Regions from separate parts of the Homo sapiens genome. Here regions 2, 3, 4, 5 and 6 are each linked to region 1. Evidence: fine-mapped expression QTL. A gene starts in region 1. Each other region holds a variant in brackets. All regions are shown on one strand. Distances are from middle to middle.

Region 1 (5,399 bases):
TCAAATTTCACCACTTCCTACAGGGTCTACCACACGCAGAGCCTGCCCTGTTTACATGGTCTGTTTAATACCAATTCTTCTATTTACAGAGAAGAATGATTCATACTAACCGAGCACTTACTTTAATCCAGGCATTGTGCTAAATGCTCAGAGGCTCGGTTCATTTAATCCCCACAGCAATTCTCAGACCAGAAGTAGTACAGTATTTTCATTCCCACTTTACATTTGAGAAAACTGAGGCTTAGATAAACTTGATGACGTTTCCCAAATCACACAGCTACTATATTGTGGTTCCAGGACTTGAGTCCAAGCAGCGTAACTCCAGAACCTTACTTACTCTAGTTACTTTACTCAGTATATTAGATTAACTCCAAGAAGAATACTTTGGTTTTAAGTATATGTTTTTCTTTTTGAGATTATTGGTTAATAATCTCAATTACTCTTGCCTCATTTCATAGACATCCACTTTCCAAATTCTTAATCAGTTCAGTCTCTAATCTTTCAGTGCAGCCATCCCCAACCGTTTTGGCAGAGAGACCGGTTTCATAGAAGGCATTTTTTCCACAGACCAGGGGTAGGGGAAACGGTTTCAAGATGATTCAAACACATTACATTCATTGTGCACTTTATTCCCATTATAATTATGTTATAATATATAATGAAGTAATTATAAAACTCACCATAATGTAGAATCAGTGGGAGCCCTCAGCCTGTTTTCCTGCAACTAGACGTTTTCATCTGGGGATGATGGGAGACAGTGACAGATCATCAGGCATTAGATTCTCATAAGAAGCGTGTGCAGTTCACAATAAGGTTCATGCTCCTACTCATGCTTCCAAACCCTTAAAGAGATCTGATCAAATCAAGTCTCATTTAAAATAGAAAAGTATGTAGTATAAAGTCTAGAGCTGAAACATTTGTCATCAAGTGTCTCATATCAATAACTAGTTTGTGACTCTGGGCAAGTTTCTGTCTTCTCTAAATCTTTACTCAATGACATGTCTTTCTGTCAGTCAGAATAAAATTGGTTAAGAAAATAACCGGCTTGACATTTATTTGTATTTGGGTTTATTGAAGTTCAGAAAATAAGCACTGATTCTAAAATTAATTCTCTAACCATAGTTATCTCTCAGTCTCTACATTTGTATTGACTAGACATATAAAAGATTCATAAATATGTAAACATGTAAACATAAAATTTGTAACTTGTGAAAATTAATTGTAACAATATCACTGTTAGTGATGGTTATCACCAATAATTTGTAAGTCCTAGAGGAAATAAAAATATTAAAATTGAAATTATATATTAGCCCCCAGAAGAAAGGTAAATTTCCCAGTAATTGTAAACTTGAACATATTATATGTTAACCCTACTTTATTTCAATATTTTACAATTTCTTTTTGTTTTTTCTAATGAAATATATTGCAATTTGCTAAAATGCCATATATGTATTTGCATATGTATGTATATGCTGTACATATATATGTACACATACATACATACACATGATTGTGTATATATAGACACACTATTATATGTTTTTGAAAACTAAGCAATTTGGAGAAATATCATTGGGAAAGTACTTACTATGATTTTTAAATGTCTACGAATTAATCAATATCTATTGGTTACTGTTCAAAGCACAGAGAGTCATACTGAGAGGCATAAGACATAACTGATACTACCAACAGGGAAACGAGATATACACAGGAAATGAATTCCTTGGCAGGGTATGAGAGCATTGAACACAAACAAAGGAACTTAAGTAAAGTCCAATGGGATTGAACTGTGACCCAACATAATACAATTTTTCTAGAGACTCATTTGTGTAAATTTGAAGACAGAACTGAGAAATGACATTATAAAAACTAAAAACGGGAGAACGAGATTTTTAATGTATTTACTAAATAGTGAATCAGTTCAGATACATAATAGAAAAGGAATTTCTTGATTAATGGGTCAACATACTGAGATCTGATGGCCTTCAACCTCCTTGGGTCTGCCCACCCCATTTTTGACGCTCCTTAAACTTCTTCAACTTTTGTCTTCTCCAGCTTTTAGTTGCTGTGATCCTCTATCTGGCAATGTATCCAGTGAACCCTGTGGGCTTCTTCCTTCCTGTCCCTCGTGTTACCTGTTCTGTGCTACCTGTGTTGCGTTCTGCTCAACGAACCCTCCTTTGGGTGGCACTCTTGTCCTGCCTAGCCCTAGTTCTGCTAGAGATGCTCAATTAGTTGTTGAGTTGAAGAATTGAATTGAACTGTTTCCCTCAGATTCCTCTAAACACAAATCCACTTATTCTTTCTGTCTTTGAAATTCTCAAAACCGCTAAGACACAGCTATTTTGAAAATAGCCAGCATTGGTTGAAGCTAGGGTGAATATGGCTTTTGACTCAGAGAGGTTGTTCAACTCACCAGGAAAGGGAAGCATTGCAAGTTCCTAAGCACTTCTGGACTCTTAATGCATTTTCACTCGTGAAAGTTTCAAGCAAGAAAAAAATAAAGTAGTGCCCCGAGTTCTTTATTAGATTCAATTACCAGCGTACAAACATCCTAATTCACTTAAACAAAATAGCCCACACACATTCCATTTCCAAGGAGGCTGCTTTTCTTCCTCTCTTCCCTTCTCGCTCTCCCTCTTACTGTTTTTCCTCCGTCTTGCTTCTCCTTTTCTCCCCTTATCCTAGTTATCTCAAAGAAAAGCTTATCTGCAACCACCCTTTAACCACGAATTACCATAAACGAAGCAACCCCCCCACCCCCCCATAAGCGAAAGCAAAGCCCTCAGTGGAGCCTGTCGGGGTGGTGGGGACGCCCCCTTTCGTGCAAAACGACTTCACGGTGAATTTCAAGTGTCCGCAGGGGATGGAAGGGGGGATTCCAGATCCTCGCATTTTCACAGACGGCCTAATCCCTCTGCGCAATGGACCCGGGAAAGCTGCCTCCCGTTAAGGGCGCCCAGGCACTGTCAAAGCGCCCTCCCTGCCCGGGCCGGGAGAAGTAAGGGGTGTGAAGGCGGAGCCACTGGGCTGGCAACACCCTCCCGAAGGTCCAGCCCTTACCCGCCTTCCTACCACCTTAGGGGATTTGGCCCGGAGAACGAGATCACCCTCTCAATGAAAGGCAGATGTCCCTTTAAGGTTTGCTTCTACAGCCCGTGGACTTTAGCCTAAACACGGACCCGCGAAGCTGGCTTTATTTGTCCATGTCTCGGACAGAGCCTGGGAAGCTGCCAGTGAGATTTCAGAGACCAAGAGCGCGAAGGGGCGGGCGATGTGGCAATCCGTCTGGGATGTGAAAAGCGTGGAGCGCATTTAGAGGAATTCGACGAAAACACAGGAAATCACTCCTCTCCCGCTCCTGGGCGCCGCTGCCACTGGGGCAGAGGACTGGGAACCGCGGCAGCGGGATAAGTGGCCCAGCCAGAGAGCGCAGCTCCCGCGCCCGGTCCTGCCCTGCGAACCAGCGCGGCCCCCTGGCGCTGAGGCTGCTCCGGCCATGGCCCCTCGGCCCCGCGCCCGCCCAGGGGTCGCTGTCGCCTGCTGCTGGCTCCTCACTGGTGAGCGACTCGCTTTTCTCTGAGCATCTCCTGCTCGCGGGCTTGGGGCTTGGAGCGGGGAGGGAGGTCCTCAGAGCCATGGGCCAGATAGGAAGAGAGAGCGCCCATCCACTTTCGGGCATTCCAGGTACTCAGGCCAGGCTACGGGGCAGGCAGGAGTTTCGCGTTCTGGTTTTGATATGAATTAGTTTTCGTGTCTCTCCAAAGTCCTTCACCCTAGGAGTAGGAGTGAGGCAGCACTGAAAACCTTAGAAGGTAGAATTCACTTTTAAAATTAAAGTTGTTTTTACAATACACATTGTATATTAGGACTTTGCTGAATATTTCCTCCCCTCCACCCTTTTTTATGGCATGGGATGGGAGGGTGATGCTTATAGGGCGCCTGATACATATGCAAAATTCCTACCCTCGGGTTGTTCCAGAGTGGACATTATTGAATTTTCTTGCTGTCTACTATTTAGGCTTTTTTCCCATGCAGAACAAGAAAAGGCAGGGATGCAAGACGAAACTGCCACTTGTTCCAAAATGATGTTTCTATGTCAGCACCCAAGAGGAGGGATATTTTGAAACGTAGAAAGGAATGGTGAACATTTTCTCTGTAAATATCACAGGGCAGTCTACTTTTAAGATGCAAAATATAGTATTGTTATTTGTACATAAATGTGTATTTTTAAGGAGGGGACTTAAAAACATAGTGGAAATGCAAAGTTGTATCCAATTTAGAAAAAGCTTGAAATATAGCATTTTGTAAGATTTTCCCAATAATGAACTCATGGTCAGATCTTTTTTACCAGTTACTGATTGGGGTGGGGGAAAGTTGAAATGGTGAAAAATGGAAGAAGGTGGGGGGAAAGTGTATCGATAGAATCTCTGTGTGAAAGAAAATCACCTTATTAATGGGTTAATTAACAGCTGGCTTTAACATATCATTGATATTCAATTGTTCAGTGTTTTTACTGCTGGCATGGTTATTAGTACTAGTTAATTTAGCATTTTTACCACTAAAAACAGGGTAGAGCCAGCTAGTTTAGACCTGCCTTAGATGGCCAAGCATTGTTAAGTTTTATGAAGATGATTTAGAAGTTGATTATCAGCAAGCAGAGCTTTTTTCAGAAGGGAGGTAATGTAAAGAGAGTTAATAATTAGCTACTGGCTTTTCATCCAAACATTTCCCACTACTCAGGAAATGTCCAATAATCCAAACAGTGGTAACTGCTGAACAGCATTATAGCCGGTGAGTGGTTTAACTTACCAGCTACTGCCACTACTTTTTACACATATTTGACCTATGATTCTTCTCCAACTCAAATTTTTTTAGATTGTATTTTGTTGTTTTTGTGCAAAATCTGAATACAGTAGTTTACTATCCAAGTTGTACTTTTTCATTCTACCAAATAAGCAGTCTCTAGAGTAGAAATGATGAAATGAGGTTTGCGTATCCTCTAAAAAGACAAGAGTGAAACTTGAAGTAACAGAGAAGTTTAACAAGTTACAATTTCATATATATGTTGGTGAAATATACATTGGTGAATCCAGGAAGAGACTTAAAATATTTAGAAACCTTGTGTGCACTATATTTATGCCCATTTCGCAACACATGAGGGATCTGAAATTGGACTGCTTTCCCATCAGTCATTATATTCTGTAGGCTCTTCTTTAGCAATCTCTTTCAGATTTGGAAACTTCTCATCAATTCAGAGTCCGTTTGTAACCTGGGGACTCATCACCATACTTATCCATGCACACTACTGTAGAGCTTATCTTTCTGTCTTCAATTTGAACCCAACTTCCAGTCTACCCTCCTAATACATCATTTTTACTATATCTGTTTTTAGTCAA
Region 2 (5,399 bases), 43 kb before region 1:
CAGTTTCTGTCTCTTCTTCAAGCCTTATCTTACAATATTCCTTCTTGCTGGGACATTCTCTGCTGCAACGCTCTCCTGCCCTCCATATTCCTTCCATTACCCACACAGCCACTCCTGGCTGGTAAGCCCCATTCATCCTCCAGTTTGCACTTGGACACCACTTTTTGCAGAAGCTCTTCCCTGACTCCCCGGGTCTGGATTAAGTGCCTCCCTGTGAGGCCCTCACTTCCCTCTGTAATTATCATAGTTCACTATAACTTCTTGTTATATGGTTTCTTTTGCCAGTTAGACTGTAAGTTCCAAAATGGCAAAGACATGCTGCCAATTAGCAAATATTTTTCATGTTCACTCTATGCTAGACATTTGGGATACTGTGGCACACTAAATATAAAGTGTGCCCAACATTGCGTCTTAAAATGAGGCTTTTCCTCCCAGATGTGGTGCATTTATGATAGAAGACATGCCTAGGGATACCATGGACCTTTTTGTTCCATGCATATACATGAGGCAGGGCAATTTCTAGAGGATGGAATCACATTCTCCTGGAAGGTAGAATTAGGGTGCAACCATTGGAAATTGCCTCTGCCTGGGCTAGATAAGGCGGTGCCAAGGGTAAAATAACTTTGGTGGATTTTTGAAGTACTATGTGTCAAACCCTATGCTGAAAACAAGAAAGAGATTATTCTTGAACTGAAGCCAACATGTCTCAAAATACTCTGAGCACGAATCTTAGTGGTCTTTATGGTGACAGTGTTTGATAGTACTAACCCATTATAAGATTACTTTCCTGTATGTACTTCCTGCTAATTTATTTAACAAAAATCCTGATATGTGATATACCTGCCAAGCAATTAACGAGATTAGAAATGAAGTAGTCCAGGAATATAAACTGCAGAAGAAAGCAATTTTCACCCCAAAAGTTTACATTTGGCTGAAAAGCCACAATTTAGACCCCATCTCACTGGTCTAATAACACCTGAACTAAAGGAGGCATTTCATTTAATTATCCAAACATATTGGCATGTAAATTCAGGCTATCAGTAAAAATGAAGCGAGATGATGAACTCATCCCTTAGGACTCGTGATTTTGAACAGCTTTTCTCTTTTTAGGATAATTTGTGCTGCTTTATCATCTCAGAAAATCTTTCATTTGTCATGGATGAACTGAGATAAGGGAAGTTATTGCCACCTGGGTGCCTCTCTAATTTTCTAGTATAACAATTGGTATATATTCACCCAGTGAGCAGATTATACAATTTTACCTCTTTCCCTCAATCTAAGGGCCACTGGGAAAATGGAAAAAGTTGAGAGAAAGGGAGAGACAGGCAGAGAGAAGGTAAAAAAAAAAAAAACCCAAAAGAGTAGAATTTTATATTAGATGTTTGACATGAGATTTAATGAGTCTACCTCTGTGGTGGCTTTGTGAGAGACATCTGTTAGTCTTAAGTCCAGAAGAGATAAATTTATTATTATTAAGAGGAATTTGGGGCCTCTGAACATACATGTTAACTTCTTTTTCTTTATTAAATTACTTTAAAATTATAATGTAGAAAAAGTGGTATTGATACTGCAAAGTAGATATAGGACTGGTTACTGACTGAATAGAGCAAAGGAAGTGACTGCTGAAGTCTCCACAGGGGAAAGGCACCAAAGACCGTGAGTCATTTCCCTCTGCAGAAGCCTTGAGGGTCTCAGGGTTTAGGGCCACTAGAGATCAGGATAAGCAAGGCCCTGGGAAGGCACTTAGCTAAAAATAGAGTGATTATTCAAAGTCTGCATTATAAACTGAGGTCTTTTCAAAAAGGCAATGATTAACTCTAGGAAAAGCCAAAAGTTGTCTGAGAAATAAACTTGGAAAAGCGATGGATGTTATTTATGTAACCATAACCATGCTAACATGCTTGTTTAAAGAGAATGTGTGGTAGAGCTATGCTGGGAGGCTGAAGAAAAGGCAAGTCGGGGTGTGGTGATGGCAAGGGAATGCTGAGAAGCGCAACATTTTTCAATGACTACCAAAGGAAGCTAGTAAATCATACATAATCGTGACATATGAAGACATATCAGTAATATTATCTATAAATGTGGAGGAAATAGGGTGAAAAAGTTGAAGAGTTGAAAATGGTTGCTCTGGGGCCTAAGGCTGGAGCATTGGGTAGAGTGGGTAGGAGAAGGGACCACTGCTTTCTAACAGGGCACTTTTATCTCTATCTGATTTCTTAAACTCTGTACATGTATAAAAACAAAAACGTTTTTAATAATTAAAAAGAAGAGAAGTGGGTGGCTTAGGTTGCTGGAGTAGTGGGGATATTAGCCTGGAAGAAATTTTTGATCCCATACCTTTTATTCATTAGCTTTATATACTCAGAATTTCAGGATCTTCTGTGTCAGTAAGTAGGTGATACATACTCAAGCCTGAATTGGTTCATCACTAAAGTAATCATAGCAGTTTGCAGCAAAGAGAAGACAGCACAAAAATTCAAGCCACAAAAGGTTGCACTGTGACTCTTCTGTAAACCTCAACCCAGTGTCAGA[C/T]GGCTGTTTTTTCCTTTCTTACTGCTATATTTTCAGTGCTAGCACAGTGGCTGACTCACATGGGTGCCTCAGAAGTAGTTGACAAAAATGCACAGAGATTACAGAAATGTTAGTTAAGAAAAGATTGATGAATTAATTGGCATGGATTGGGAGGAAGGAAGTTCTAAGGAAGACTCAACTTGCAAAAGGCCAAATATAACTGGGAGCTAGGCCAAATTTTATCCCTTTTAAGGAATCAAAACCAAGGTTAAGCCAGGGTCAAACCACTAATAAAGGAAAATGAGAACAAAATAAGTTCAAACTGGTATATCTGTGAATTTAATTTGCTTGCTAAGCACGTTGTGTATGAAGTGGGTGGAGTTTGTGAACTGAGGGTGTTCCGTATCTCATATATAGTCCATATCTCATATACATTATTCTAGTTGATATTTCAAAATATAGAAAAATGACAAAGTTTTCATCATTCAACTTATTTGGATGGTCAAGAAAATATAGAGACTATGTGATAAGTGACATAATCAATCAAGTTCAAAATATAATTTTGAAAAAAAGAAGTGGTCTTCTGTCTAACTAGGAATACAAATTTTATGTTTAACAGCATGCATTGTTTACTAGGTCTGCCTTAAAAAGTACCGCACACTGGTTGGCTTAAACAACAGAAATGTATTGCCCTGAAGGTTTGAAGTCTATATTAGTCCAATTTCATACTGCTATGAAGAAATACCCGAGACTGGGTAATTTATCAAGAAAAATAGGTTTAATAGACTTACAGTTCCACGTAACTGGGGAGGCCTCACAATCATGGTGGAAGGCGAAGGAGGAGCAAAGTCACTATCACAAGAACAGCACAGGAGAAACCCACCCCCGTGATTCAATTACCTCCCACTGGGTCCCTTCCACAACACATGGGGATTATGGAGCTACAATTCAAGATGAGATTTGGATGGGGACACAGCCAAACCACATCAAAGTCCAAGATCAAGGTGTTGGCAGGTTTGGTTCCTCCTGAGGTTTCTGAGAAAGAATCTGTTCCATGCCTCTCCCCTAGCATCTAGTGGCTTGCCAGAAATCTTTGGCATTCCTTGACTTATAGATGCATCACCCCATCTCTGCCTTGATGTGCACATGGTATTCTTCATGTGTGCATTTATGTATCTAAATTTCCCTTTTTGTAAGGACACTAGTCATATTGAATTAGGGGCCTACCCTAGTGTATTAGTCAGGGTTCTCTAGAGGGACAAAACTCTCTCTCTATATATATATATGGGGAGTTTATTAAGTATTAACTTACATGATCACAAGGTCCCACAATAGGCCATCTGCAAGCTGAGGAGCAAGGAGAGCCAGTCTGAGTCCCAAAACTGAAGAACTTGGAGTCCAGTGTTCAAGGACAGGAAGCATCCAGCATGGGAGATAGATGTAGGCTGGGAAGCTAGGCCAGTCTCGTCTTTTCACACTTTTTTCTACCTGTTTTATATTCTAGCCATGCTGGTAGCTGATTAGCTTGTGCCCACACAGGTTAAGGGTGGGTCTGCCTTTCTCAGCACACTGACTCAAATGTTAATCTCCTTGGCCACACCCTCATAGACACACCCAGGATCAATACTTTGCATACTTCAATCCAATCAAGTTGACATTCAGTATTAACCATTACACCTAGTCTACTATGACCTCATCATAATGAATTACATCTTCAGTGATGTTATATCCAAATAAGCTCACATTCTGAGGTACTGGGGTTAGGACTTCAACCTATAAATTTGAGGAGATACCCACTATAATGAAGAAATCATGTAGTCTAGGTTTTCTAAAACAATAATCTTAGAGATAGACAGACTATCCAAAAGGGTAGATGACTGGATAAATGGAAGTGTCTGATTCTGATTGTTAGGCTGGGTCCAGCCCAGAAGATGATGATGATGTGTGTCCTTGGGAACAAAAACTAGTAGAGTAAGTGTCTCTTATCTGGAAACAGCACTAACAGCCAGGTGAAAAAAATGCAAAATATTTGAATAAAATGAATTGGGAAAGGAATAAGGTCCAACAGCAGAGGATCCAACTGCAGATCACAAAATCAAGGAGAGCCTACAGCTGAGACACAAGACAAAATGAAAAAGCTAAAGAACTGAAGAGCTGGTGAAATGAAAACAGAATACCGAAGACTGAGCACAGAAATCAGAGAGCTATGGGGAAATACCTTAGTTCAAGCTATAACCTGCTATCATCCTTTGCATGTCTGTGGCAAGCGGTGTGAGCAGATTAGGTATATTTAAAAGTCCAGAACCAAGAAGCATAATAATTATTTTTCTGTCCAACCATAAGACTCATAATTTTCATATCAATGTGATATTTGAAGAACTTAATATCAAATTGCATCTGAAGTTAATTTTTCCCTTGAGTAATAAAAGCAACTTAGAGAGAATCATAATTTGTATGCTTTGTGCCCCAGAAAACCTCTGTGTGGCTACAAGTAGCAGGAAGCCAGACCTAACAGAGTTATGATCCTTGTCTCCAATGTCCCTCAAATTGCACCACAGTCTAAACGGCATGTACTTCTGACCCCACATGAATATCAAGTTATTACAAACTTATGTGACTTTAATGACCTTTCAAAGATAATGCAAACATGAGAACATTCCTAAGTACATGCCATGAAAACTTATATCCAAATGGATGTTGCACTTCAAAGTCACCCTGCAAAGAAGTTATTTTATTTCACAATAGTTCAACATAGTTGCAGTGCTCCTAGTTTGGAATTTATATCAGAACCAGTGTTCGAGGAGTGACTCTCATCCTACAAAGTACTTAAATAGGCCAGAAGTGTCACATTACTTTGCTTTCTTTAAATTTAATTAAATCTAACAGAA
Region 3 (5,399 bases), 20 kb before region 1:
AAGATCTTGCAATACAAGCCCATTTCTTAAATGGCAGCAATCAATTGGATCAAGTAGCAACTACTCCCTTTATACAGGCCTAGAGTTTTCTGTTCACCCCAGTTCTCTCTGTCCTTTTCACCAGAAAATGTTAGTTTCCAATCAATACTAATTTGATCATCATTTTTATCTTACTAAAGTAGAATAGTTTTGTGTCTTCATGTCATCATCAAAATTGGGGAAAAAATAAACTAAGGTGATAATGAATTTAAAGAATACAGTGAGAAGAATCACATTTATTTTATAAATTAATTATATTGTATTAATTATATTATTATGTTTTAATATGCATACAATATGTTTCTGTGTAGAAACAACTAAAATTAGTTGTTTTTTTTCATATATTAGCCCATAGCCTTACTTGAGTTTGTGATTCCTATTTTATAGTCATGATTATTAACTCACTTCATATATAGTAATTGAAAGCTGTGGGCTTCCTGTTTGCTTTCTCCTCTAAAGACTATTACTAATACTCCTAACTCATAGTAGACACATCTCATGCCTAATGTCTCTGCAGCTTCCTTGCTCACCACCAACCCATCACACAACACACATTAACACCCACCAACTACACAATAAATGAAACAGTTGTAAGTTGTTCCTTGCAAAGAAGTAGCCATTCATGGTGACATTGCCAGGCGCTTGGCCTAAGGGCACTACAACTTGAACCCACTAAGCTAGGGAGTGACCTAGCTTTTTATTATGGCAACCAGACTTGCTCTGTTTTGAATTTTTGATGTTATAAGATTTTAATTTTTATATGTTTAAAATTTCAATTTTAATTTAATGAGATTGTCCAGATAATAATGAGAATAGAGGAGACAGCCAGACAGGACAAAAACAGAAAGTAAGATGAGACCACATGGTACATAAAAAAGCTGGCTGAGCATGGTGGCTCATGCCTGCAATTCCAGCACTTTGGGAGGCTGAGGCAGGAGGATCACTTGAGCCCAGGAGATCACGGATGCAGTGAGCTACGATTGTACCACTTACTCTAACCTGGGCAACAGAGTGAAACCTTGTCTCTGAAAACAAAACAAGAACTACTGAGAAATTCATGTTTTTTTAAAGCTTCCTCTGTGACCAAGAGATTATTCCCTTTCAGAATATAAATATTAGCCTAAATTAGATTATATAATTATATTTTTAAAAAGTTTACTTTTTTTTTTCCCACATCTCAAGGAACTGCCTATGCTAAGGGACTCCTAACCAAGTCGGCCTCTTGTTTCAGGTAATTTTCAACAATGACCATGTCTATTAGTCAGGGTTCTCTAGAGGGACAGAACAAACAGGATATATGTATATAGGAAAGGGAGTTTATTAAGGAGAATTGACTCACGATCAAGAGGTAAACTCCCACGATATGTCGTCTGCAAGTTGAGGAGCGAGGAAGCCAGTGGTGGATCAGTCCCAGTCTCAAAACCTCAAAAGTAAGGAAGCTGACAGTGCAGCCTTTAGTCTCTGGCCAAAGGCCTGAGAGCCCCTGGCAAACCGCTGGTGTAAGTCCAAGAGTCCAAAAGCTGAAGAACTTGGGGTCTGATGTTCTAGGGCAGGAAGCAACCAGCACAGGAGAAAAGATGAAGACCAGAACACTCAGCAAATCAGACCCTGTCATGTTCTTCTGTCTGCTTTTATTCTAGCCATGCTGGCAGCTGATTAGATGGTGTCCTCCCCGATTGAGGGTGGATCTGCCTCTCCCAGACCACTGACTCAAATGTTAATCTCCTTTGGCAAGACGCTCACAGACACACCTAGAAACAATACTTTTCATCCTTCAATCCAGTCAAGTTGACACTCAATATTAACTGTCACATCATGTAACCAGAAATCCACTAGTGTGGGTTGAATCTTTTATTCCTAAAATTGATAAAGAATATTTTTCAGGACTCACTCCAATTCTGAATCTAGGTTAACATCACCAAAGATGACTTTCTGATTTATGTTGGTAATTTCTAGGTGTTTGGCCATAAGCTGAGTATATCATTAGTTTCAAAACAGATATACTCATCTCCCAAATGGCATTAGTATGTCATCTTGTTAAGAAAAGTTCACTTACAGTTTGTCATAGTTCATTTTCTTTTGCTATAACTGAATACCACAAACTGGGCAATTTATAAAGAAAAGGAATGTATTCGTCACATTTCTGGCAGCTGAGAAGTCTAAGAGCATGGTACTGGCATCTTGTGAAGGCCTTCTTGCTGCCTCATATCATGGTGAAGGGCATCGCATGAGGAGAGGGCAACAGCATGCCAACTCAAGTCTTTCTTCCTCTTCTTACATAGTTACCAGTCTCATCAGAGGGCCCCACCCTATGACCTTATCTACTCCTAATTATCTCCTATCT[C/T]CCATCTCCAAATACCATCAACATAAGATTTGGGGAATTAAGTTACCAACACATGAAATTTGGGGAACACCTTCAAACCATAACACAGTTTCATCAGTTTCTTTGGATATTGTGGCTTATAGATATACCACATTTCTGTAATTATTAAAAAAAAAAAAAACTTGAGCTTTATTTTCCAAGAGCCTCTGCCAGAACTTAAAGTGTGTTTCAGATTTCTTGTAACTTGAGAACTTCCTCTATAACTGGGCCTTTGTTTACCCCAACATATCTGTATATCTAGGCAATCTATAACTCTACTGAATTCAGGGAATATCAGAAAAAGGAAATAAATGTGCATTGAGTCAATCCACAAGTTCAGTTTGAATGTGAATATTTCACTTCCTTAAAGAAAGCAGAGCTATTCTTGTCTAGCTTATTTGTCCCTTAACTTTAAGTTTAATCTGTGGCATTCTCTTCTTACATCAGTAAGAAACAAGAATCATACTATGAGTCCTGGGGGGTCCGACAAGTTGGTTCTTGCAGATTTTCTGAACTCCAAAAATTCCTTGGTATCAATTTGTAGTTTAAATTCTTTTCAACATGCTTTCACCTCCTATCTTCCTGATAGCACAAAAATTAGCAAATTTTTCATACTTTGCTTGAAATTCCTGCATAAACTGGTAAGATATGGTCACAGGCAGAAAAATTATTTACAATGGTGATCATTTCCTTTGTCATATAATGAAATGAACCTAGCTTGGAAAATCACAGCAAAACTTGTCTGGTGAATTTGGACACTAGGCACACCAACATTCTCTTGGAATCTGAATAAACTGTTGAAAGCTTCTTTCATCACAGTGCTCTATCTGAAAAAAGCAAAATTAATTTTTCAAAGTTTGAGCCAACTTCTCAGCTTTCTTTCTGGTAAACACTTACTTCATTATTTTGGTCTTTAAAATATTGCTAAAAATGTCAGACTGTCTGCACTGGAAGTCAGATGGACAGAGTTGACCTGCTGTAGAATATTTCTTTACAACCTCTAGCTCCTCTTATTTACCCTGAGCTTTTGTGCACCTGTATCCTGTATGCTGCAGTGTTTGTTTGCCACAATACAAATGTCACCCACCTACCCCACCCAAAATAGAGGCAACAGACAAAAGTATTGCCTCATATGCCAATAATTTCCTATGATCTAAACAAAACCCATTTATAAAATTCTAGACAACCTAAAATAAGCAAATATTAATACAATTTTGCCCACATTCCTATTTGATTTATGACTGAACTGTTGGCAGAAACATTATTTTATTTATTATTATTATTACTATTTTATTTATTTACTTATTTTTTGAGACAGAGTCTCACTCTGTCTCCCAGGCTGGAGTGCAATGGTATGACCTCGGCTCACTGCAACCTCCGCCTCCCAGTTTCAAGCAATTCTCCTGCCTCAGCCTCCCAAGCAGCTGGGATTACAGTCATGCACCACCACGCCCGGCTAATATTTCTAGAGGGGGGCTTCACCATGTTGGCCAGGCTGGTCTTGAACTCCTGACCTCAGGTGATCCGCCCACCTCGGCCTCTCAAAGTGCTGAAATTATAGGCATGAGCCACTGCGCCCTGCCAGAAATATTTTAAAGCCAGCACAGCACATCACTATTTGTGATCTAGGAATCCTAATCCCTGACTTTGAATTTTCTCTGGCTCATGTCATGATCCCTCCACAGCTGTGTTATAATGTGGAAATTTATCTTTCATGTGGGTCTGACTTAGCCTTTACTTTTTTTTTCTGTCTCTTACTTAAATCATGATGTTTGAGTCTCATCTTTCATGTTTCTTTACTATTTTCTCTACTGATCTTTGTAATTCCTGGGTTTTCCTAACTACTGGGCCAAACTGAAGGCACATTAATCCATGATTCATGATCAATCCATGATCACCTTTTGAGGTTCTATAGAGAAGACGGTATGGTTAAGATTCTAATGAGTACATATGGGAAAAACGTTGGTCAACTTTTCTTTTTTTAAGATCCCGGGCCTGGCGCGGTGGCTCACGCCTGTAATCCCAGCACTTTGGGAGGCCAAGGCAGGTGGATCACGAGGTCAGGAGATGGAGACCATCCTGGCTAACACGGTGAAACCCCGACTCTATTAAAAATACAAAAAATTAGCTGGGCGTGGTGGCGGGCACCTGTAGTCCCAGCTACTCCGGAGGCTGAGGCAGGAGAATGGCGTGAACCCGGGAGGCAGAGCTTGCAGTGAGGCGAGATGGAGCCACTGCACTCCAGCCTGGGCGACAAAGCAAGACTTCGTCTCAATAAATAAATAAATAAATAAATAAATAAATAAATAAATAAAAGATCCCGCCAAATAGTCAGGGTTTCTGGGCTATGAGGAAGTGAACTAATTTATTAACTGTAAGGTTGACCTTTGTAAGCCATAAAACAGATATCTGACCAGTTTCTTCATATGGCTTTGTAGTCATTGATCCTGTATGTCTACCTAAGCACAACCGTTATTTTTTATTGATGCAGTTTTTATATCTGACTAAAGGAGACTGTTCCTAAATACGGCACTCCAAAACATTCAAATAACTTGGTTGCATAATCAGTTCATTCAATGATAGCCAGAAAAATAGGAGAACAAGTTTTATTGTTCCTATGCAAATAACCACATTGTTATTAATATGACAGAGAGGGAGAAAAAGAGAGAAAAGAGTAGAAGATTTATTTCTGAATTCTGAGGGTCAGTGAGAACATGAAACTAAATATTGTACTAAATTAATAATTAAAGAAAGATTAAGAATAAACAAAAAGAGTGTTCAGCTTAGGTTCAGAAAAGGTGTTCGGCTTACTTTTCTTCATCATTTACAGATGGGCTTCTCAGATCTCAGCTTTGAGGTCTCATCTTGGAGGTTTCCGCTTCTGAGAACCTTTTGCTAACTTCCTTATACTGGGCTAAGTGTCCATTACATGTGCTTTTGTTGCACTCTGTGTACCCGATTAGGTACATGAGTATGTCAATTAAAACACTGTTTATGA
Region 4 (5,399 bases), 50 kb after region 1:
AGGGGAAGGAAGGAAGGGGAAGGAAGGAAGGAGAGAAAGAGAGAGAGAGATCTGGTATCCCTTTCTTTTATTATAAGGACAATGGTCCTATCAGATTAGGGCCCCAGTGGTTGTGATTTCATTTAACCTTAATTACTTCCCTAAAGGCCCTATTTCCAAATGCTGTCACTTTAGCGGTTAGGGCTTCAACATATGAATCTCAGGGGACACAATTCACTCTATTGAGTGAACGCTAACTATTATACAAGAGTTCATAACTGAGAGAAGGACAAAGAAGAAAGGTAGAAGAAGGATAAAAGAGAAAGTAGAAGGACGTAAAAGGCATTCTGAGTTGAATCAGTTCTGCACAGGGGATTTCTGGGATATCCCATACAATACTTCCACTTACTTTTTTTGGGCCAGTATTTAGTCGTACAGCTATGCTATCTACCTGTTGTCTTCTGGCTGTGTACACTGCTGCCCCAAGTAAAGATTTTATTACTAATGAAAAAAACGGATATTAAGAGCTAATAAGCCTTCTTAATCATATCCAGAACTGTGCTAGGCGTTGAGAATGAGAATATAAGTTCTTATTTTTAAGTACTCTAAGGAATTCCCAGTCTAACAGGAGACTAGTACATGTAAACCAGTTACCTTTAATATAAAGCGATACATCCTATGGGATAAATGTGTACAAGTTCTGCAAAAACAGAGGAAGAATGATTATCAACGGGGGAGTTGGGGAGAGTTCACCAGGCTAAGAATTGAAGAAAGGAATTTCCAGAAGTGGGGAAAACTTTAGCAGAAGTTCGATTGAGAATACAAGATGTTTCAGGGAACTGCGCATATTGAAGGGTGGCCATTACTTGACATTCTGAGCCAGAGTAGTAATGAGATTGGAAAGGTCAAATGAGCCCTCATTTTAATGGGTCTAAAATGGTGCTTAAAAAGTGGGACAGCATTTATTGGGTGATGAATTTATAGATGTGTGTGTGTATATATTTTGATACAAGAAACCCTTCTGAAGAAATTAGTTATTAGATTCCATTGATGTCACAAGGTGTTCTTTTTGTTGTTGTTATTGGTTCGTTTGTTCTAATTTCTGCCCTTTTCAAGATTCAAATCACAACTTAAAAGCAAGGAGTTGCAAGAATATATGGAATGGTGAGAAATGATTGATGTTAGAAAGCTTTCGAAAATTGCAATACATAAGGAAAATTGTCCAATGCACATTCTTATTTATCTGCATTTATCTTTCTATATCCTGTTGAACTTTGCCGATAATTGTAGAAACACCTTGGCATTTCTTTCTTCCATCTTTATATTTTCTTGATATCATTAGAAATAGATGTTCAGTCTACCTCTTGCATGCTGACCAATCCTAAATTGGGCGATGACCTATTTATTTTGCATCTTCCCTGAATGCTTAATCTTCATGAACTAGAAATGGCCAGTAGAAAGTCAGTAAGTGTTACTTAATTTACTTCCGTATTTATTAAATTTCTCCCAGAGTAAGGAATTATGAGTTCCTGGAGCAGCACATGTGTCTCTTTCTTACAGAAAATTTCAGTTCCATGGTGAGGATTATTTGCACATCTCTGAAGAGGCAATGGTCCATCCAGACAAAATAGCACAGAGCCAGTACATAAAATAAGAAAGTGGACTGTGGACAAGTCCTGACAAAATTATGGAAAGAGGAACTAGTGAAAATTCTAGCAAGTCAGTATCTTTTCTGGCCAGTACATTTGTGTAAGCAAATTGAACTTTAATCATAATATAGTGCCAATTTGATTTCCAAAATCTTTGTCTTTTTTTGGTCCCGCCTTGGAAGTTGAATCTCAGTCATGTACACCAGAATATGAATGCGAGATGACAGCTCCCATAACAAATCACCCTTGGCCAGATTTCCGCCACTTGGTTGTTCATTTTGCCTACCTCTGAAATTAGCAAATCTCTGCCTTTGTCTACTTGTGCCTTCTCAGATCTGCTGCTCCTGGCCCATTCCTTGATCTCAATGTGGCTGAAAGTATTAAGATTTTAGAGCATGTATAAAGATAATAAAGGTCATTCAATCAAGCTCTTCTATTTTGTGCATTTTTTGCTTCTCTAAGAAGCAAGAATGGCACTGTGATTTCATTGTTGAAATAGTTAAGAAAATAGGGGACAATTTTGATAAAATTAGAAAATCTTAGAGAAGTATCCTGTTACTACGTCTTCAAATGTATAATGATAATTATACAGGAAAATTTAAAGGCATTTTTATCATAAAATGCTTCAAGCAAACGAGAAAATTATGAGGAATAATATATCAAATAGCAATGTGCCCTCTACCCAGCTTTGCAAAATCTAAACATTTTTCTGTAATTGTTTATTTTTCATAAGAAATAAAACTTTATTAGGATTTTTGAGAAAGTCCAGTAAAGACCAAACCTCTTCCTCACTTGAGATCAGAACCAATTGGGAAATGACAAAGAATCAGACTGATGAATCAGCATGGCTGATGAATTAAATTCCCACTACTGAACCGTAGAGGAGGCTGTCTACACTCCAGCGCCAGCCGAGAGCCTGACACTGGACGAACAAAGCAAAGCATTTTCTTAA[C/T]GTAGGCAGGCTCAGTTCTAAAAGAAAATGAGAAAGAGAGGATGGGGCTGGCCACACAGTGTCTCCTTCCAGACTCACCAATCAATTAGTGTGAAGGAAGGGCAGGTTGAGAAATAGCCGAGAAGTATTACAACCGGTGAGGCACTCACCCCATGGAAGGAAATGTCAGAAGTGGAAAGTTAGCATTTCCCTCTAAAAACATATAAAGTTAAAGCCATGTTTTTATTCCCTTTTAGACCCTATTTTTTCCTCCCCTTCTCCCATGCAAATGTAACCTCTACCCTGAATTTTAAGATCCTTATATATAACAAATACTTAGTCACTAGTGTTGTGATTCTAAGTATCAGAATGCTTCCATTTAAGGGAAATATTGGCTGCCGGTTCTTGGGGATATTGACTATAACATCTGCAGTTACTTCAGTTTCAAGATACTCTTGTAGACTAATGGAAAGAATGTAAAAGATGATGCTACTAGATAGAAATAGAGTTTGGATCGAAGGATGTTACTGCCCAACTAATGTTCTAAGTGCTGAAAGATCATCCTGGTCTTAGCAACAGCAATTATAACTAAGAAAACAAAGTTTAGAGTTATCTCAAAACAGAAAAGAAAGCATCAAAAAGTTATCTCTTTCCTCTGAAACAAAAATAAGCATTCTAGTGACCCTTGCCTTCTGAAATATTTCAACATTCCAAGCTACTGAGACTTTTCTTATTTTCTTATAAACAAACTTTAATGCCCTTTAAAATACTTTCTGATTTCTTTTCTAAGCGTTTTCAGGTGAATAACAAGTTACATTCGTTTGGCTTATTTTCTCTTCATAAAATGGACAAGTTTTTAGTTGAGCAGAGGAACCGAAAAACTTCTGAATGAAGGAAATATTTGGTAGTGAATGATATAATGGAAAATTGCTATAATAAGTAGCTGGGAAGAAGCAAGGAAGGGAGAGAAATTATACAGAATCATTTTAGTTTAAGTGGCAGTGTATGATTAGAAGCAGTACTGAGACATTGAGAAAAATAGTCTATTACATACCATAGGAAAATCAACAATGGCATCTCTGAATATGGAATTGCTAGTTAAAGCTACTAGGTGACTCTAGGATGGACAATTTTTTTTAATAGGTTTTTGGTTTTGGTTGAGGTACACTGTCAGAGTGTGCACAGTATTTCATTTTGTTAGTTAGCTTCATGAAGACCTTAATTTATTAATGTTAATGATTGACCACTTGTGTGTTAAACCAGAAAGTATTTAGTCAGTTGAATTCCATCACAAAAGAAATGTTATGAATCCGTATATTTTGCCTCCTGTTTCTGAGAAATATGGCAAATAAAAAAAGAGAGGTCAAACTAAATCTAATACCTCTTTAAGTCCCACAGCAAAATAAAACATAGGTAGGCCTCATTTTATGTTTTGATTATGTCTTGAAAACCTTGTATACAAGTTAAAACATTTGTAAAAGTCTAGGCATGCTTCATTTTTGAAATAATGTGGTAGATAACTTAAAATGCCAGTAATTATTTTCCAGTCTAAATAATCACAACATTGAGTCAGGTGTGGTGACTCACGCCTGTAATCCCAGCACTTCAGGAGGCCGAGGCAGGCGGATCACTCGAGCCCAGGAGTTCAAAACCAGTCTGGGCAACGTGACGAGCACTTTTCTATACAAAAAATACAAAAATTAACCAGGCATGGTGGCATGTGCCTCTGGTCTTAGCTACTTGGGAGGCTGAGGTGGAAGAATCACTTGAGCTGGCGAGGCCGAGGCTGCAGTGAGCCATGATTGCACCACTGCATCCTAGGCTGGGTGACTGAGTGAGACCCTGCCTCAAAACAAAAACAACAACTACAACAACAACAACAAAGTCACAACATAATTTAATAGATTTTTTCATATGTTGGAATTTCACTAAGTGAAGAATACCTGTTATATGTTATATGTTATAGGTGATACCGTAAGGCATATGAATGATCATATTTCTAAAAAACTTTTTACTTTGGCTCCTAAATTTCAATAATCTAAATAAATACTTTGAGGTATATTTGAATATGTTTTTTGTTTTCATTCATTTCTATTTTATTTTTATTTACATCTGAATGTGTTTTCACGAAACAATTTTAGCTCCAAACTCCAAATTGCACTATTAGGGAAAGGGAGAATAGCTTTTGGCTCTTCTTGTACTATTTGAACATTAGGTAACTGGTTACTGTCTTCTGCACACTTTTAGGATGTCATTGGTTCAATCTCAGGGTCAAGTCTTACCCAACTGTCCTATGTACTCTGTCCATTCATGCCTTAAAAGAAAGAACCTGAAGAAAAAGTTGTACCTTTATTAGCAGGTTCTTTTAAATGAATTTTATTAATTAACATATAATTTCTTCTCAGTAAGATATGTGAGCTGGCAACACATTGCCAATCCTATGGTTATTTTTGTTAGTATGCACAATAGGTAGTTTCATGGGTCAGGAAAGCAGAAATAGTATACAAGGTTAAAGAAATGATTTTCAGTTCTCTAATTTCCACTGGAATTATTAAACATATAAATAAACAAAAAAGAAGTAAGATAACTCACTGTCCCTAGGTGAAGCAATGAAAGTAAGTGAAGTAGTAACTGTGTCTCCTGTTTCACCCTCATGCTTGGAACATGTGTATGCCTTCAAAAGCTCACATCCAAGTCATCCAGAAAAATTAGCCTGTTAAATAGTATAGGAGAATCAACAATGGAATCTCTTAGTGCCTGGAATTTGCAATTGCCAGTTAAAGCTAGTAGGTAAATTAAAAATAATTTATTTTACAGTGTATACTACCTCTTTGCTTTAC
Region 5 (5,399 bases), 110 kb after region 1:
AATGCAGAAAAATTAGAATATGAAAATGTACAGAAAGGAAAGATAATTATTTAGAGTTATGGCTTTCAAACTTTTTTTGAGTGTGACTCACGATAATAACTACATTTTGCTTTTTGACCCAGTGCACATAAATATATACATATAAAAATAAGGCAAAGTTTCACAAGATAATTCTTATTACATGTGATGCACTGTGATGGTTTCTCATCAATTCCATTCTACCCTAATCTCTTTCAATGAAAAAAAAATGCTGGCTATACTCAGTCTGTTGATTTCATGACTGGGTCACAATCCGTACTTAGAACATTTGATTTAGAGGTGATAGGAATCTACAGGCCAGCCAGACTGAATTTCTGTGCCTCCCTTTTCCCCTGGCCTCTTTCCCCTGTGCCTTTAGAAACAGAACACTCTAATTGTTTATGAGTCTGGAGTCCCAGCTGCTTCTGAAGAACTCAGCTGTCTTGTGCTCTGTGTACAAGTCATTTTTAAGTGGCTTTGGTCTCTCAACAGCTCTCCCGGTGTCATTTACCAATAAACCAGATTATGAGCTTGGCTGGCCTTAAGGAAAATACATAAGGTCTTCCAACTAATTGTGTACTTTTAATTTTTAATAACATGGGCTAAGATATGATAGAAACAATCTGTAAAAATAATTTAAAAGAAAAGTTACATAGTTACATTTGATAGTTCAACAGAATACAGTGTCATTTCTAAATCTCCTTTTAAGTAAGCAAGTAACCTAAAACTGGCAAAAATGAAGCCCACTTCAGCTAGGGGAGGGGGAGATCAATTGCCTGAAATGACATTTCAGATTATTTCTAACCTAACTACACCATGGATTAAAGGTGACAGGTTGAAGAGCCCAAACACTCCAAGAAGTCTCTATATTTAAATATGACATCATTTTATAAGGAACTTTACAGATTACAAATGTCTTCTATATCATCTTTGTTGCTACACTACACCAAAAGCAGTGTTTTGACTAGACTATTTCTTATTTTTTTCATGAGATATTTAAAAAGGCTTTATTTCTTTGTTGCTCGGGAAATCTCCATTTCCTGTCAACATGTATCTTAAGATGACAAGTAGCTGTGATTATGAAATTTCTGTTTGCCAAGGACAGTGCCATCTATTGAGGCAAGTATGCCAAGGACTTGCTTAGTACATCAGAAAATAGTCTACTGTCTCCATTTCCCGTTGAGCACTGGGAGAAAATGCCAACATTTCTAACCAGAGGCTGCACAGTGGTTAGAGTGGCTGGCCCAAACACCCATGAACAGTCCAGGGAGAAGTTTGAAGCAAGAAGCCCAGGAGAATATAGTGGTCTATTACCATGATGCCACTGCAGCAGGAAGAACATCACATAGCGTCCTTCTGTCTGTTCTCAGCTGAAGGCAGAATAGCGGCAGGGCAGGTGCTGAAAATAATGCAGGTTTCCGTTGCTGCATTCTTATTGATCTTGCAGATAAGTGAGAAAACACCTGAAAGCATTGTGGACTGAAAATACATGTTTAAATTAAAGTTAAAATGCATCTCAGTCATTTAAATTACAGGGCAATTCACACAAGAGATTAAAATGATATATTTGAATTCTTCACTGCCGCGTCTAATCTAGTCCTACAAAGGTAATTACTGATGTATTTGTTCACAATTTTATCCATGTAAATAACTAACAAATAGTTACATTCACAAATTTGATTATTCTCTTGCCTCAACGAAAGGGCAGACTGACTTTCTTAAGTGCTATTTTTAACTTATCTGCAAGGCCAAATAAATCAGTAACCCCTAGTGCAAGCAAATAAATCAACATTCCATCAATTCCCTCAGGAAATTGTGGCTTTGGGTTTGTGAATATTTTGAGAATAATTTGAGAGTAGCAGACTGCCATGGAATGCTCTGAATTATCTCTGCATTTCAGTAAAGAGCTTCAAAATGGGTACAGGATCTTTTAAAAATGTATGATTGAATGGCATGTGGGCAGCCCTATCACAAAGACCCCTCTGGATCTGTGAGTGATACTTACCACCAGTAATTAGAGCAAATAAATGCATACTAAAATACCTAAACCCTTTATCACACAATGAAATTCTGACAGAATCTATGGCCTGAATATGGGTGGGACTGATGGAGTTGAGAAACCTCTTTAAATATGTGAATGAAATTTTTTTCAGTCCCATAACATATTAAGGGAGTTTAGCCTAAGGGCTCAGCAGGGTTCCCAAGGCATGAATTTGGACAGGAATTTCCTACTGTAGTACATCCAACTTGAGCCTTGTGGACCCAAAGCACCATAGGATCCACAACATGCTACAGTATAAGAATGGAGATTTCTCAACCCCTCTGGCGAGGACAGGGCTGCTAATGAACAAGAATTTGAGACATGAGCCCTTTGACTATTTTTCTCTGTCTTCTACCCAGGCCTACCT[A/G]GAAATTTTGGGTTGAGAAATGTATGGCTGAAAATGCCCTAAGATGTTTGAAGTTCTGGTTGGTAAGACCACAAGCTCTACCAGGTATCTGTATTCTGCAAGTCAGTAGTGCATGAAAAGGCATTGTTACTTATTTACAGTGATATTTTCCTATGTTATAGCCACAGCTGACCAGTCAGCAGCTTCATTTGAAATGGAAATGTCTCAGACTGGCTTCAGTGCTCATTATTCACAGGTATGTTGACCAGTTGGTGAAAAATGAAATATATGTTTGCAAGACTTCCCTTCCCAAAACCAACATCTAGCCATCAGTATGTAAGTGCAACGTGCAGTTCATAGCTTGAACAATTATGCAGGCTATGATGATGTTTTCTAATTCAAATAGGAAAATATCATTTCACAAGCTTCTTATTAAGAAAATATGTTCTCTCACACAGTTCACTACATTGTACTAATAGTTGTGAATCAGACAGTGTGAGCTTTGCCTTGTAATTATGTATCTGTCTAAATGAAATAATTTAACATATTTGCTACAGATGTGGAATATTTTTCCACAGGTCAAGGAATTCAAGGGTCTTATTAGAATTCCATGTTCAAGACCTAGGATGCTGGGCACCCAGAATAAAGTAGAAAGACAAGATTAGAAAATATATCATTTGCAGTTAATGAAAGAAAAGGCATAATGGTCCTTGCAAAAGAATATTGACATTTCCATGTGCAATTTTACTGTATAACTTGGGTAAGTTATTTGTGCCTTGATTTCCTTTTCTGTAAAACAGGTATGGTAGCAATAGCATCTAACTCATAGAGTTATCATGAGGATTATATAAGCTAACAAATGTAAAGCACTTTGAACAGTATACCTATACACATTGTTAATGGTGTTTAAGTATTTCCCCTTATTATTTTTATTAAATATTATTATCTTATTTATTTGCATGTAAGGACTGGGTCATGCTTGGAGCAGTAGGAGCCTATGATTGGAATGGAACAGTTGTCATGCAGAAGGCTAGTCAAATCATAATCCCTCGAAACACAACCTTTAATGTTGAGTCTACCAAAAAGAATGAACCGCTTGCTTCTTATTTAGGTAAGGTTTGGATATAATTATAAAAGAGTTGTTTTACTTTTCCATTTTTTACCTTTAGCATTATTTGCTTATGTTTCTATAGGCTTGCAACCATATAGCAGGATTATTTCAACAAGTTGGGTATTTTCCAGAACCCATGCAAAGTTTTAGGCCTCTGAGCAGCTTTAGTTAGTCAAAATGACATACATGGGGGTCCTTTTTTGTTAGTAGGGCTGTCTAATGCAGGGAATGGTTTAGGTTGATATGTGCCCTTTCTGATATGTTCAGTTTCTCTGTGTCTGGTATCAACTTTAACTTCAAGGAGAACTTTGAACCTGGTGGACAAGAAATGAGAGTAGAAAAGGAAACCTCGACTTCTCCTATATCCTGAAAACCAAACTCATATTGTCTTAAATGTCTTCTATCATTAATTTCTCTCTATGGGTCCTAATTTGGGAAAAGAAAAATGTATTTTGTCATGTAACTTCTTCTTTAATAGCTCCATTCACAATCAGACAAATATTGAACTTAAACCCAGTGATATAACATGATCTTGTTTCCCAGTGTCTTGCCAGAAATGAGGAGTTGTATGTCTGGTACCACTTTATTTGGGATCTATACCAAGCTGAGCAACACCTGGGGGATGCCAGGGAACTCTCCCCTCACTGAAAAAAGATATTCACCAACAGTTGGGAGGACCTAAAATAAAAAGGACCATCAGGATATGGCTTCCCAGCTCTTACTCACTCAACAAATATTTGGGGGATCCTCTTTTGCCCCAGGCATTGATCTTAGTGCTGGGAATAAAGTGATAAAGAAAACACATACCTTGGCCTGGAAGCATTCACAGCTTCACGTGTTAGCCTTCCTCTCTGGGATCTTTCTGTCCCGGAGACAAGTCTTTTTCTCTCTGTCCCAGTTGCTTTCTATTTTATCAGGAAGGTGGCAGGTCTTTACTGCGGTGTTTATACATCTCCTTATTGAAGGACACCTATTAAAGCTGTAGGAGCAGCAGGACTTAAGAAGAATAAAAGGACTAGAGTTTTAGATGACTAAAAATGTAACAGTCAACAGCAGCTGCACTGTGACTGCTAAAATCTCTTAAGACATGTAGAACTGCATGAATGAAAGTCCAGTCTGTTTCTCATAGAAATCCTGTTACATTCCACTCTGGTCAGACAACAGCTAGAGTATCTGGTTGTTCTAAGTATCACATACTACAAGGAGAAAATGACAAACTAGGATGTGCCAGTAAAATATTACACAGAAAAGTCAGCTCCCGAAGCAATTCCCTGCTACAAGTCTCACTCTCTCGAAAACTTAAAGAAATTGAAGGTTAGAAAACAAAGTGTGCATTGCATGTATTTTAGGTATTTGGAGGATTGTGATATAAAATATAGGGGTTAGGCTTAAAATTCATTTCAAATTTTAGCATTAAAAGAGATCCTATGGAGCATGTAGTCTTAATTTCCAATCAAGAAACTGAGAGATAGAACAATTATGTCCCAGCTGCCTATGGCAGGTGTGAAACCACAATTGAGGCTTCTTGATTCTTATGTCAGTGTTTATATCACGATACCAAAATAACTGATTCTGGGTTGATTAAGAAAGCACTGCACAAATATTGAGTACCAGCAATGTGCCAAACACTGAGTTTATAGGGAATAAAAAGATAGATGGGGCAGGTCAGTTCCTACACTGATAAACCTTACTTTTTTGGGTGAGAGACAATAATGAAACAAGCAATCACTATCAGTATGATATGTGCTATGACACAGAATACCTAAAAAAGAGGGCTGGGGATTAGATTAGATATCTTCTAAAAGTTCATTACATCCTAAGGTTCTATGAGACTGTTTATGTGAAATACCTTGGAATCAAGAACCAGCTTAACCTGAGGCTTC
Region 6 (5,399 bases), 140 kb after region 1:
AGGTGTGCATGTGTGTATAAGAATTATAAACAATAAATGTAATTAGACACTGAAAGCACAGTGAACTCAGAGACCAGTTCTATAGAGTTCCTCAAGGTTATCTTCATGACTGCTAATATCATTGTTATAACAGTGTGGATATGCTGAACAATAGAATCTTTTTTGATTGATTGCCAAAGAGATTTTTCTATAATGCTAATTTAATAATCTGTACAATATGAGAATCACTTCAAATAAACATTTCCATCAATTATTTTTTAAAATTTTTGTAGATTTGCAGTACCGTGTCACCCTAGATTCACTAAGACAAATATCACGAAGTTTTTTCTCTGGAACTCAAGAGAGAAAGGTTCAAAGGAACATCACAGTTCGAAAATCAGAATGCACTAAGCACTCCTTCTACATGTTGGCAAGTAAATCATATATCGTTGCTGCCTTATTCCAAATCAAGAATACAGTAGAGATGTCTTATTTCAAGTCAATCAAATTCTTACTGTTTTATTTCAAAATGCACTTATGATGTCATAAAGGAAATCTTGTTTGTTCATTTTTATCATAAAATCGCAGGTCTAATTTTCTCATTTCCAAATATTTGTAAAACTATCTCTAGTCTTCCCTGTCTGCATTATCAGACATCCATATATTATGGAACGGCAGGAAAAGACACAGTGTTCTAGTTGACAAGAAACCTTATTCATGTCTTCATTTCTTTCACTCATTCATTTATTCCTTCAACTTGAAAACATTTAATTTCTGTGGGCCTTGTCTGTCAGTTGTGGTTGGTAAGTGATTAACTGCTCTGGGGGCAGACTGCTGGGCTGTATGCTTTCTGGGATCCATGTAACTACATATCTCGCCGTTTGATTTTAGAGCGAAGGGGAAAATTATCTGGTATTTTCTATCATCTGTAGGCTTTGTGCTACTTCAGTTTTTTTTTTTTTTAATTTTAGTGGATGAGGGAGTTTTGGAAATCAAACTATTAATGTTTAGAGATGGCTGGTAAGCCAGTGTGAATCATTTAAAATGTATTTTGTTGGGACACTGTGTATATGGGGAATGTTCCCAACAGAGGGCAGGAGTTTCCTAAACATTTTCTTAAAATGTACATGAGAGTGATAAAAACAAGAAGCAGCATGAAGGTAATGAGGAAACTGATTTTAGTAACTGACATTAAGACTTAGAGACTTGACGGTAAACTTGGAGCTTTAAAGGAACCAGGCCAATTTTCCTACTTCTGACTTATTTCTGTATTATTGATATATTCATAGTCTGTATTTTGAAAATTGTAGTTCAGGGGCAGGGGAGTGACAGAAAATGTGCACCCTTTTGTGCCACATTTGTTCTTCCTCAGTGATTTTCATGTTGATATGCTTCATGATACTTATCATGAAGCTTATTCTGTCAGGACCAAGATCAATCTATTATTTGGTAAAATAACACTGGAGTTGCCCCTCCTATTTAGTTAATCAGAACTGAACACTTAGGAATTAGAATGTGGATAAAATTTGAATGGGTATGAAACCAGATATGGCATTGTCTCCAACCTGCTAAAAATCATCTCAGTCTATGTTTGTCCACAAATTCAGTGTCTAAGTTATGTCCAGGTACTGGTGTTTAAAGGACTGAAATATTTTCAAAATTTCGAAAATTGTTTTGGATTTTGAAAGAAGCACTTTGAAATTTGTTCTGGAGTCAGCCAGTGTAGAATTTGTATCCCAAATATTCCACATTCTGAGAGACTTTGGCAACGTCGTTTGGTCTCTTAGAGGGTCAATCTTTCATCTGTAAAATAAGGACAATAATAGTTACTCATCTTAGAGGACTGTTGAAATAATTTGCAATAATGTATATAAAGCTCATAATTTTGAATACTATAAATGATTATTGTTATTGGTGGCATGTTAACAGTATTAATCATATTCACATCCTTTCCAAATAATTTTACATTATAAAATTCTTGGCCAGGCATGGTGGCTCACGCCTGTAATCCCAGCACTTTGGGAGGCTGAGGTGAGTGGATCACCTGAGGTCAGGAGTTCGAGACCAGCCTGGCCAACGTGGTGAAACCCCGTCTCTACTAAAAACACAAAAATTAGCTGGGTGTGGTGGCACATGCCTGTAATCCCAGCTAGTCGGGAGGCTGAGGCAGGAGAATCACTTGAACCTGGGAAGTGGAGGTTGCAGTGAGCCGAGATCGTGCCGCTGTACTCCAGCCTGGGTGACAGAGAGAGACTCTGTCTCAAACAAACAAACAAACAAACAAACAAACAAAAACTTATAGCTGTAGGTATATATTATATTAATGAAATGTAACTCATTTTATAGAAAGTTTGCCCTTCTGAAGTTGGGAAATGTTCCCGGAAGTGTTACATAATGATCTTTGGCTTGAGGTCTCAAGAAAAACTATATTGTGATGCAGGTAGCTCCTATGTTGACACAGCCA[A/G]GTGTGATGTTGCCATCACTCCAGCAGGGCCCTCTGAGGAACTGGAAGTGAGTCAACAGGTCATACTCTGAAACCTCCACATTCCCCTATGCCCCTTGTCAGAATGCCAATCCCTCTCCAGGGAAGCAAAAGCCTGATGAGATCATATGTCAGATTAGATGCACAAGAATGCTGCAGTAAGCCTGACCCTTGGGAACAGAAGAAGGAGACATAACAAGATCAGAACACCCGGTAAATATGATACCAGTGATATATTTTATGTTTCACCCTCTAGGACAAGCATGACTTTCAGGACTCTGTGAGAATAACGTTGGACTTTAATCTTACCGATCCAGAAAATGGGCCTGTTCTTGATGATTCTCTACCAAACTCAGTACATGAATATGTAAGTCAGATTTCTTTAAAATACAAAATACCAACTTGTGAACATTTTAATGTCACTAGTAAACTGTGTTTTTTCACTACTCTGCATTGATCACAAAGAACGAACAACTAACTGGAAGAAAGAAAAAAAAGGCAAGCAGATTTTATTCCTGGTCAGGAATGGAGAAAGAGGGAGCTCTTGCTCTAAAGACCTTCTCTTCAAGCTGTGAAAACCTGGGGAATTTTAAGGAGTTAGATGTGGGGCAGGGAGGTATATGTAAGCATGTCCAGAGAGGAACTCCAGATGTACAAGTACAGCTCATAAACATGCTTCCTTATACAACATATGTTCAAGAAATGGTGGCCATTTTCTTCTATGGCAGGGACTTTAGCATTATAATGACATGTTAATGATCTAAAGGTAACAAGGGGTTGCTGGTTCTTGTTTGCTCCGTTTTCTCAATGGCTTTATCTTCCTCTGGTAATTGGCAAAGGGTCCTGAAGCTCCCAGGCCGTCTATAGTTGTTTTTCAGCAAGCTTACCTACAGATAAATAGACTAGAAAAAAAAAAACTGTTTAAGAAAAAATAATGCACTTTCTCAGCTATCTACTGTTTAACAAAATAATGAACTTTCTCAGTTATCTACTCTTCAAGAAAATAGTAAACTTTCTCAGCCATATCTCCAGGTTTGCCCTGGTAACATTAGGAAAAAGCTTGAAACCCATGCACACATAACCCTAAATCAATTTAAAATGTTTTAAAAAAGAATTAGGCTCTTCTAGACTTTTTCCAATCCTTCTAATTTCCTATTGTTGGAGTTTAAGAAAACTAATAAATGACACTCATTTTTACCTCATTTGAATTTAGGACCAATGGAAAGAAATCTCCCCCATTATTCTAATAAGCACTGGATTGCAGTGTATGGTTTAGGTATAAAGGGTGTCCTCACGCTGAAGCATGGACTTAGACCACCAGTAACCACCTAGGTCATCAGCAGTGCTGATCCATCTCTGTCCTTCTTCATGGAGCCCACCTTGTAAAACTTGTCAAATGGAGTAGAGCCAAATGTGTGCTTCCTGTGGGTACAGCTGCTCTGAGAATAGAAATGAGAGAAAGGGACTGAGTTGTGTTCACTTAGTTCCTGTTCCCAAAGTTAGAGTCCATGTGCCACCCCTGAGAGTGGAGTGAGGGGAGAGAAGAGGGAGGGTGTCACTAGCGTGGCTCCAATGGAAGAGATATGAGGGATGGGGAATTCTTTTTCCCCATACACCTATCTTCCATTCTCCCTTCCTTCCTACCAGATATATTGATTGTCTTATACATACCAGGCATTGGAGCTTACAGTCTAACACTGGAAACAGGTATTAAGTAGTAATTAGAGCATATGCTATGGAGGAGGATTTCAGAGCTCTCTAGGAACTTCCACCTAGGCTGAGAAGTCAGGACAGCCCTCCTGAAGTTGTGCCATTTCAGTGGAGCCCTGAAGGATAGGGTGATTTCCACCCTATTTAGGGGAGTTTGGGGAGCAGAGGGGATGCTAAGTGTGAAAGTCCTGAGCATGAAGGAAACAACGACATTCGCTAGTGTGGCTGACGCTAAAGAGCAAGAAAGGAGGTGACGTGAGGTGAGGCCGGAGGTAAAGGCAGGGGCCGGGTCATTCGGGACTTGGTGCCACTGCACAAATTCTAAACTTTTGAAAGAGCAGTGCAGTGCTTTTGAAGGTTTTTATTTGGTTCAGCCACACGACAGGATGCAGCAGAGTGAAGAGTGGTTGGAGGGAAACAGGTGGATGTGGGAGCCCCGTGGGAAGCTATTACTTTAGTTCAGGGAGGAAATGAGAATGCTTGGGTGTGAGGTGGTGGTGGGACTGCAGAAGCAAGAAAGGATTGGAGAGATATTTAGAAGAGGAGTAGAATGGACAGGGCTTGGTGAGTTACATATGGTGGTGGTGGAGAGGCGGTCAATGAAGAAGAATCAAGCAAAACTCCTAGATTTGTGGCTTGACCGTTTTCCACCCTCTCAACTGAGCTTTATGATATTCCTAAGTATTTGATTAATTTTAAGAGAAAAATCTCATGATTAGAGTTGAGTAGATTTAGATCTTGCAGTACTTGACTTTGTATTTCAAAACTGTCCTTCCCTGGCAGACAAAAGCCAGTGCAAAGCACCCATGAAAATTGTGCGTTCTTAAAAGGACAAGCACAATTTACATTTGTAAGTAAATGTTTACTCTTCTCCCCTATAAATTACAGGGATAAATATAAAATCCCTTAAGATTTTTGCAGGGAAATTCTCCTTATGAGTTGCTTAACTTACTTTGGCTGTATGCCATTTTTGTTACACAAATTGATGGGTAATTTTCAACAATGCGTAGCTAAATTTTGAAAAATTCTTTCCTGTCATCATTTCAGATTCCCTTTGCCAAAGATTGTGGAAATAAGGAAAAATGTATCTCAGACCTCAGCCTGCATGTCGCCACCACTGAAAAGGACCTGCTGATTGTCCGATCCCAGAATGATAAGTTCAACGTTAGCCTCACAGTCAAAAATACAAAGGACAGTGCCTATAACACCAGGACAATAGTGCATTATT

Which allele goes with the higher level. Positions count from the first base shown, and alleles are read on the strand shown. Sizes are in standard deviations (SD) of each study's normalised expression. Not every link is listed here.
With allele A in place of G in region 5, the expression in gastroesophageal junction of the gene that starts at base 3,062 in region 1 is lower (moderate effect, 0.41 SD a copy in GTEx).

What was found. PIP is the estimated chance that this variant, and not a neighbour inherited with it, causes the effect.
Region 2: its variant is fine-mapped to the expression of ITGA1 in whole blood (TOPMed, PIP above 0.99). The same link has a PIP of 0.9 or more in blood mononuclear cells.
Region 3: its variant is fine-mapped to the expression of ITGA1 in whole blood (TOPMed, PIP above 0.99).
Region 4: its variant is fine-mapped to the expression of ITGA1 in whole blood (INTERVAL, PIP 0.97).
Region 5: its variant is fine-mapped to the expression of ITGA1 in gastroesophageal junction (GTEx, PIP above 0.99). The same link has a PIP of 0.9 or more in esophagus muscle, lung, sigmoid colon, spleen and stomach.
Region 6: its variant is fine-mapped to the expression of ITGA1 in whole blood (INTERVAL, PIP above 0.99). The same link has a PIP of 0.9 or more in neutrophils.

The regions. Positions count from the first base shown.
Region 1 is chr5:52,784,855-52,790,253 of GRCh38, forward strand. ITGA1 (integrin subunit alpha 1) reads left to right here and starts at 3,062. Exons shown (of 29, transcript NM_181501.2): 1 at 3,062-3,560. The coding sequence starts at 3,500. It overlaps PELO (pelota mRNA surveillance and ribosome rescue factor), which reads left to right and starts at 3,062. Exons shown (of 3, transcript NM_015946.5): 1 at 3,062-3,560. It overlaps PELO-AS1 (PELO antisense RNA 1), which reads right to left. Exons shown (of 5, transcript NR_186455.1): 2 at 681-738. RefSeq lists an enhancer at 2,750-3,029.
Region 2 is chr5:52,741,542-52,746,940 of GRCh38, forward strand. The region is part of intron 2 of PELO-AS1 (PELO antisense RNA 1); the gene reads right to left. Among named protein-coding and RNA genes, the nearest start is that of ITGA1, 44 kb to the right of the region's middle. The variant C/T (reference allele first, on the strand shown) is at 2,533.
Region 3 is chr5:52,765,228-52,770,626 of GRCh38, forward strand. All of the region lies in intron 2 of PELO-AS1 (PELO antisense RNA 1), which reads right to left. Among named protein-coding and RNA genes, the nearest start is that of ITGA1, 20 kb to the right of the region's middle. The variant C/T (reference allele first, on the strand shown) is at 2,384.
Region 4 is chr5:52,834,689-52,840,087 of GRCh38, forward strand. All of the region lies in intron 1 of ITGA1 (integrin subunit alpha 1), which reads left to right. Among named protein-coding and RNA genes, the nearest start is that of PELO-AS1, 37 kb to the left of the region's middle. The variant C/T (reference allele first, on the strand shown) is at 2,581.
Region 5 is chr5:52,894,868-52,900,266 of GRCh38, forward strand. ITGA1 (integrin subunit alpha 1) reads left to right here. Exons shown (of 29, transcript NM_181501.2): 10 at 2,588-2,661; 11 at 3,372-3,516. Among named protein-coding and RNA genes, the nearest start is that of ITGA2, 92 kb to the right of the region's middle. The variant A/G (reference allele first, on the strand shown) is at 2,427.
Region 6 is chr5:52,920,060-52,925,458 of GRCh38, forward strand. ITGA1 (integrin subunit alpha 1) reads left to right here. Exons shown (of 29, transcript NM_181501.2): 17 at 273-409; 18 at 2,718-2,828; 19 at 5,219-5,399. Among named protein-coding and RNA genes, the nearest start is that of ITGA2, 67 kb to the right of the region's middle. The variant A/G (reference allele first, on the strand shown) is at 2,444.